Homo sapiens: one gene and its partner. The protein of the gene in region 1 binds, or shares a complex with, the protein of each later gene. Each region holds a gene or a part of one and is shown in the gene's direction. Other genes may lie near its edges. The genes, in order: CAPRIN1 and G3BP1.

Region 1 (3,920 bases):
GATGGGAGGATCACTTGAGGTCAGGAGTTCAAGACCAGTCTGGGCAGTGTAGCGAGACACCATCTCTATTTTAAAAAAATAATTAAAAAATATTTTTTCACTTTTGTTTTAATTGGTTCCTTGGTTTCTTTCTTAGCTTATGAAAGAAAATAAGAATTTCATCAGTGTCCAAGTCTTCTGTTGGAATTCAGCAAATTTATTGTTGTGGATAGCTGTCAGCCTTTATTTTTATGTTTAGGTTCATTTTTCCTCTTGATGACTTTTTAAGTTTTTCTTAAGTCTTGCATTTTAAATAATGTATTATAATATAATAAGCCTTTTTTATTTAGAACTGAGAATTTCAGAAGACATAGTTTAGACATAATTCTAAAATTTAGTGCAGATTTCTCCATCTTAGAAGTACTTGTGGAGGGCTTTTATAACGAGACTTGGGTTTATTTAACGTCGAGCTTCAAAAATATATATATTTTTGCAATTTTTAGGTTTTATATTATACAAATTTAAAGAGAGATGGTAATATTAATTTCTCCCTTCTTTAGCAGTTGTATCTATTTCTTAGCCTTATGCGTCTTAGAGGTAACTTGTTTTTTTAACAGTCAATTTTGTAAGCAGGAAGAAGCTTTTATTTCTTTACTTATGTCTAGGTTCCTTTGGTATCATCCACAAGTGAGGGGTACACAGCATCTCAACCCTTGTACCAGCCTTCTCATGCTACAGAGCAACGACCACAGAAGGAACCAATTGATCAGATTCAGGCAAGTTCTGTTACCGGGTCACATACATTTGATGAGGCACTTACTCATGAATTGAACAGATGTACATTACCATTAATATAATGATTCTTCTTTTTGGACCTACTTTGCTTTCATGAAATATTTGAGTTTGTTAATACATATAAGTTTGAGATTAATTTACCACTTTAGTACATCTGTTCACTTTTTGTTTGGCTAAGTTTAGTTTACCGCTAAAGTGCATCTATTCACTTTGTGTTTAGGCAACAATCTCTTTAAATACAGACCAGACTACAGCATCATCATCCCTTCCTGCTGCGTCTCAGCCTCAAGTATTTCAGGCTGGGACAAGCAAACCTTTACATAGCAGTGGAATCAATGTAAATGCAGCTCCATTCCAATCCATGCAAACGGTAAGCAAATTAACTAACATTAATTGCCTAGTATGTAATATGAATCATGGTAGATTTTCTTTTCTTTTTTAAAGGTCTTCATTTAACTGTGCTTGAGTCTGCATCTTTCATTAACTGTAGGGTATATTTAATTGAACATAAACTGATTATTCCAGAGATTAACTGATACTAACGGATATTCTAGAGATAAATTTTAGCCTTATGAGTGATGTGCCTGTATCATCTTAATTTGTAGTTTTACCCTTTTGATTTGATTAACAAAAGCTTAAACATTCAGAGAAATAGACTAATATAACATCCATATAATCATTACCTAGATTTAATAGTTGCCCTGTTTGCTTAATCTTTTATTTTACTGAAGTATTTTGAAGTTTCAGATGTTATGCTTTACCTTGATTCTTGAGCAAGCACCTTTAGAGAATTTCTAGAAAATAATAATAATACTATAATCTGTGGGGTGCAGCTAAATCGGTGCTGAGAGGAAAGTTCATAAGATTAAATATTAAAATAACTTTTGATTAATATGTTAATAAAAATGAAAAAACATTCAACCCTGTTAAAGTTCATAGAACAAACTTCTGTAAGTGGTACTGCATCCAGGAGTTTGTCTTATTTATTTATTTTTTGAGACAAAGTCTTGCTCCGTCGCCCAGGCTGGAGTGTAGTGGCGTGATCTCAGCTCACTGCAATATCCGCCTCCTGGGTTCAAGCGATTCTCATGCCTCAGCCTTTGGAGTAGCTGACACTCCAGGCATAAGCCACCATGCCCAGCTAATTTTTGTATTTTTAGTAGAGACGGGGTTTCACCATGTTGGCCAGGCTGGTCTTGAACTTTTGGCTTCAGATGATCTGCCTGCCTCAGCCTCCCAAAGTGCTGGGATTACAGGTGTGAGCCACTGTGCCAGGCCAGAGTTTGTCTTTTAAAAAGATTTCTCATATATGTAAAAGCATTTCCAAGGCTGCTGATTGCATGTCTTTTTATTTTTTTTAATTCCCTACTTCCATTTCACAGCATATTATACTCCCCTTTAAGTACTATATGGTATATATGTCTTTTTCCACATTGAATCACTTGGAGGGATTTTTGTATGTGTGTGTGATGTTTTTGTGTTTGAGACCTCTGTGATGTCTTTATTTATGTCTGAGGTAAAACCACCATTGAGTTTGGCCATGTTATAAACCAGAGAATAAAAGGATGAACTAATCATTTACTTTATTTACTAACAGGTGTTCAATATGAATGCCCCAGTTCCTCCTGTTAATGAACCAGAAACTTTAAAACAGCAAAATCAGTACCAGGCCAGTTATAACCAGAGCTTTTCTAGTCAGCCTCACCAAGTAGAACAAACAGAGCTTCAGCAAGAACAGCTTCAAACAGGTACGAAATCCAGTGTCACCTCATTGGCTCCTTGCTTTCCAGCACAGTTATTGACAGTGTTAGGACAGTTTAGACTTCAGAGTGGTGGTGTCCAAGAGTTTCTGTTTTAGTAGCAGACCATATGAATTTTTCATTTCAGATCATGAGTTAAATTGAGTCTGTACTTGTATATGTGAATTATGTGCAATTTTTGGAGGCTTTATAGCCATTTTCCTTTTGTCACTGAACTTACATAATATCCCTGTTGCATTGTATAATTTATATGGAATTAAATTTGTTACTTGAATTACCATAAAGTGTACTTTTTTTTTTTTTTTTGAGATGGGGTCTCACTCTGTCACCCAGGCTGGAGCGCAGTGCCGTGATCTCGGCTTACTGCAACCTCTGCCTCCTGGACACAAGCAATCCTCCCTACCTCAGCCTCCCAAGTAGCTTGGGAATACACGCATGTGCCACCACGTCCAGCTAATTTTTTGTATTTTTGGTAAAGTTGGGGTTTCACCATGTTGCCCAGGCTTGTCTTGAACTTCTGAGCTCACGTGATCTGCCCACCTCAGCCTCCCAAAGTGCTGGAATTAAAGGCGTGAGCCATTGCACCTGGTGATAAACTATACTTTTAATTGTTAATTGATTGAAGGCTTTTAGCATGATATCTGGCATTGAGTCAGTTAGACAAAGTTAAGAAAAAACTCATGGTGGCTGCATTTCGTGGACTGGGTTGAAACATAATCTATTTTGTCAAGTAAGGTCATAATTTGGCTAGTTACCATACCTGTCACGATAGTAATGTAGGTAGGGACGCTTTTATGTATTTGAGACAGGTTCTCACTTTGTTGCCCGGGCTGGAGTGCAGTGATGCCAGCATAACTCACTGCAGCCTCAAACTCCTGGGCTCAATGATCCTCCTCCCTCAGCCTCCTGAGTAGTTGGTAGTTGGGACTACAGGTGCTTACCGCCATGGCTGGCTAATTTTTTTTTTTTTTTTGTAGAGATAGGGTCTCCAGGAGCTCACTATGATGCCAGGCTGATCTCCAACTCCTTGCCTTGAGCGAACTTATTGTCTCTGTCTCCCAGAGTGGTGGGATTATGGGCATGAACTACCTTGTCTAGCTCGATAGAGATACTTTAGATTTTTTTTTATATATATATTTTTTTAAGAAATGGGGTCTCTGTCTGTTGCCCAGGTTGGAGTGCAGTGGTGTAATCAGATACTGGAGCCTTTAACTCTGGGGCTCAAATCCTGTACTGGAGCCTTTAACTCCCCACAAGTAGCTTGGACTGCAGGCTTTTCTCAAACTCAGGGCCTCCAGCAGTCCTCCCACCTCTACCTTATAGGCATGAGCCACCATGATGTCTTCTTTAGTTCTTTAATTCCTCAGAATTTAATTGGAATCCCAC
Region 2 (3,920 bases), on another chromosome or scaffold:
TTGAGGTATTAAATGCTTTGAGGGAATATGAAGTGGACAGAGACCTATTTAATTAGAGATCGGGCATAAATTGATATAAATACCAATATGTGAGTTAAGTAGCAATAAAGAATTTCATTACGTTAGTAAGTGCATCATTATACCTTTGGGTTTTTTCCCCCTTGTGATTAGAACAGAAATGTGTTTGATAGCAATAGAAATCCATATTTACTTGTTACCATGTGATACTGAATGTTAATATTCAGTGCCTGAAGGGTGTTTTCAAGTGTTTCTTAAGGTGTGATGAACTAATCAGGTTACTCACTTGGGTTGCTGGTTGAAAATGAAGATTCATGGTCCCACTGCAAACCTACCGAATTAGACTTTCAGGAGGCAAAACATCTGCAGTTTTGTTTGTTTTTGTTCTATTGAGACAGAGTCTTGCTCTGTTACCCAGGCTGGAGTGCAGTGGCGCGATCTTGGCTGACTGCAACCTCCGCTTCCTGGATTCAAGCAATCCCCCTGCCTCAGCCTCCTGAGTAGCTGGGACTACAGGCGCACGCCACCATGCCCGGCTAAGTTTTGTGTTTTTGTAGAGATGGGGTTTCGCCATATTGGCCAGGCTGGTCTGGAACTCCTAATCTCAGGTGATCTGCCCACCTTGGCCTCGCAAAGTGCTGGGATTACAGGTGTGTGCCCAGCCCCCTCTGCAGTTTTAACAGCATTTCTGGTTGATTTATGTGGAATTTTAAGAATTGTATTCTGAATCATAACTATTTTCTCCCCCAAATTCCTTATGTGCTTGAAAGAGTTTTTGTGTGTTTGTGTTAAAAGCCACATATCATAAAATTTGCCATCTTAACCTTTTTTTCATCTTAACCATTTTTAAGTGTAAAGTACAGTAGTGTTAACTGTATAGATGTGGTTCTATGACAGATATCTAGGACTTTTCACCTTACAACTTTTATTGAAGATAACTTTATATACCTTATAAACAGACTATACCCATTGAATGGCAACTTTCTTTCCCGCCCCCCCCGCCCCAGCCTATTTTGAGAGTTTTTCTGATGTTGTATGCTAAATGAATTGTAATAGTTGTGGGATTCCAGCCATAAAGTGGTTTGGTTCATTTTGATGTCCTGATTCATTTGCTTATCAGAATTTGCCAAACAAATGGATTCCAGTTAAGTTATTGAGTGGCATTTTAAAAATTACTTTTTAAAAACTCAGATAGATATACAATTCTTAGATTTTTGTTTTGGATAGAAGGAGCTAACTCTGTGTTCTGGTTTCTGATTAATAAATGATGGAGGAATTTTTTGTGAAATAAATGGTGGCAGAATGATATTTCTCAAATTTTCCTGTCAAAGTAATGACATGGAAGAACATTTAGAGGAGCCTGTTGCTGAACCAGAGCCTGATCCTGAACCAGAACCAGAACAAGAACCTGTATCTGAAATCCAAGAGGAAAAGCCTGAGCCAGTATTAGAAGAAACTGCCCCTGAGGATGCTCAGAAGAGTTCTTCTCCAGCACCTGCAGACATAGCTCAGACAGTACAGGAAGACTTGAGGGTATGAAACGTGTCTTCATTTTTATTCTATTCCTAGTTATTTTTTTTAAAAAAAGTTTCTGTTCTTTTGTATTGCTGTTTGGTTGACTTGTAGATACATTTTCATATTGGTGGTTCATTTCAGGGAAATTTCTTAGATATTGAGCCATATGTTTGATAAGAGAGAGGTAAGATGTGTATTAGTTTATTTCATCAAAAGAAACCACTCCCTTCCCCGAGGTAACTTGAATGCCTGTTAGACCAGAAATTTTAGGTGCCACTGTAGCACCCTATCAGTGATTCCTTTTCTATTTAATATTTAATCTTTTACACTATAAATTATTACATACTTGTTACTACAAGTGCATAACATCTTTTCAAGAAAAATAACATGGCAGAATATACTTTTTCTATGAAATTTTATTGAAGATAACTTTATAGTGGAAGTAGAAATGAACTGCTGAAGTAAAACTTCTTTTCTAGTTGGCATACCTGATTTCAGAAGTTTTCAGTTTGTCCTTCTGAGTCTCGTCAGGGTGATTGTTAACTGAACTATCGTTGAAACCTTTGCATTTGGTGCTCTGGAAAGGAATATAATTTTTAGTGCTGTGTTTATAGGCTCAGGGTTATGTCATTTGTTTGTTCAATAATTCAAATTCCTGCTGTGTGTTAGGCATTGTTCAAAGTGTAGGTTTTATATTGGCAAAACAGATAGGGGTTCTTGTTCTCTGGCAGCTAATAGGTGAGTAGGAAAGAGCAATGTTGAAATGACTTTAGCTTGCAAGTGGAAAAAATTAGCTGGGCATGGTGGTGCCTATGTGTGGTCCCACCTGCTTGGGAGGCTGAGGTAGGAGGATGGCTTAGCCTGGGAAGTCAAGGCTGCAGTGAGCTATGATTATGCCACTGCATTCCAGCCTGGGTAATAGAGTAAGACCTTGTCACAAGAACAAAACCATAAGAAGCAAGTGGAAAAGTAGGTTGGCTGGACCAGCTGACCACTTAGTTGGTTATTATAGTAACCCTAGTGAGAGAGAATGATGGCTTGAATTAGAGTTGTGGCAGTGGAAATGGAAAAGAAATAATTAGGTAGAATAACAGGTTCTGGCGATTTTTAAATGTGCGAGAAAGGTGTTTATGATGATTCTACAATTGATGTAATTGAGTCGATGTTTGTACAATGGATTGGATGGAATCACAGTAGGAAGAGCTGAGCTGATTTTGGAGGAGAGGGAATTTTGTTTGATTCACAGATTTGAATGAAAGTAGCTTTTGTTGGGCCAGGCGTTGTGGCTTACGCATTTAATCCCAGCACTTTGGGAGGCTGAGGCCAGGAGGATTGCTTGAGTTTAGGAGTTCAAGACCAGCCTGGTCAATATAGTGAGACTTCATCTCTACTAAAAAGAAAAAATAGCTGGACATGGTGGCACATGCCTGTAGTTTCAGCTGCTTGGGAAACAGGTGGGAGGATCACTTGAGCACAGGAGATGTAGGCTGCAATGAGCTGTGTGCATGCCACTGCATTCCAGCCTGGGCAACAGAGCAAGATTCTGTCTCAAAAAAAAAAGTGAGTAGTTTCTTGAACCTAAGCCTCTCGGATTTGCTTGGTACTTGATCATCAGTCCCAAGGAATTTCAGTACTAAATTTTGAATAGCTGAAAGAGAAGAATCTTAATATATATATATAAACTCCATCCTGCCTATGAGAATGTGTTACCGTTTGTTCTGTACAGGAAATCAAGAGTTAGTAGCTTTTATATTGTTTTGATACCTGGTATAATTATGTAATGTTGGTATTGCTCCCTTAGACATTTTCTTGGGCATCTGTGACCAGTAAGAATCTTCCACCCAGTGGAGCTGTTCCAGTTACTGGGATACCACCTCATGTTGTTAAAGTACCAGCTTCACAGGTAAGGTCCTAATAAAACTTGTACATTAGGCAAATTTACTTCTATTGTGGTAATTTGATTCAACAGAGGTTTAGAGAATGTGAAAACTGGTCAGGTGCAGTGTGGCTCATGCCTGTAATCCCAGCACTTTAGGAGGCTGAAGCCAGCTGATCACTGGAGCCTAGGAGTTTGAAACCAGTCTGGGCAACATAGTGAGACCCTGTCTCTACAAAAAATAAGAAATTAGCTGGGCCTTGTGGCATGCATCTGTAGTCCTAGCTACTTAGGAAGCTGAGGTGGGAGGATTGCTTGAGTCCCGGAGGTTGAGGCTGCAGTGAGTCATGATTGTGCCACTGCACTGCATCATGGGCGACATACTGAGACTCTGGCTCAAAAAAAAAAAACCAACCCAAATCAATGTAGAAACAGAACTGACATATAGGACGGAAGAGAAGGGTATAAGATGGTTTTTAATGATTTTTCTTGTGAGGGAATTGTCCATTTT

The links.
Region 2: the proteins of CAPRIN1 (region 1) and G3BP1 are in contact, whole or in part, in a crystal structure (PDB 8TH7), measured with the Homo sapiens proteins. Residues at the interface, in NP_005889.3 of Homo sapiens: Met363, Gln365, Met366, Gln367, Gly368, Pro369, Tyr370, Asn371, Phe372, Ile373, Gln374, Asp375, Ser376, Met377, Leu378; in NP_005745.1 of Homo sapiens: Glu4, Lys5, Pro6, Ser7, Leu10, Val11, Glu14, Phe15, Arg17, Gln18, Thr21, Leu22, Met29, His31, Arg32, Phe33, Tyr34, Gly35, Lys36, Gln58, Lys59, His62, Leu114, Glu117, Asn122, Lys123, Phe124, Tyr125.

Annotation. Positions count from the first base shown.
Region 1 is NC_000011.10:34,089,535-34,093,454, forward strand, and holds part of CAPRIN1 (caprin-1), read left to right. Parts: intron 1-644; coding exon 645-755; intron 756-994; coding exon 995-1,144; intron 1,145-2,371; coding exon 2,372-2,522; intron 2,523-3,920. UniProt on the Homo sapiens protein: mRNA-binding protein that acts as a regulator of mRNAs transport, translation and/or stability, and which is involved in neurogenesis, synaptic plasticity in neurons and cell proliferation and migration in multiple cell types.
Region 2 is NC_000005.10:151,795,878-151,799,797, forward strand, and holds part of G3BP1 (ras GTPase-activating protein-binding protein 1), read left to right. Parts: intron 1-1,349; coding exon 1,350-1,551; intron 1,552-3,334; coding exon 3,335-3,436; intron 3,437-3,920. UniProt on the Homo sapiens protein: Protein involved in various processes, such as stress granule formation and innate immunity. Plays an essential role in stress granule formation.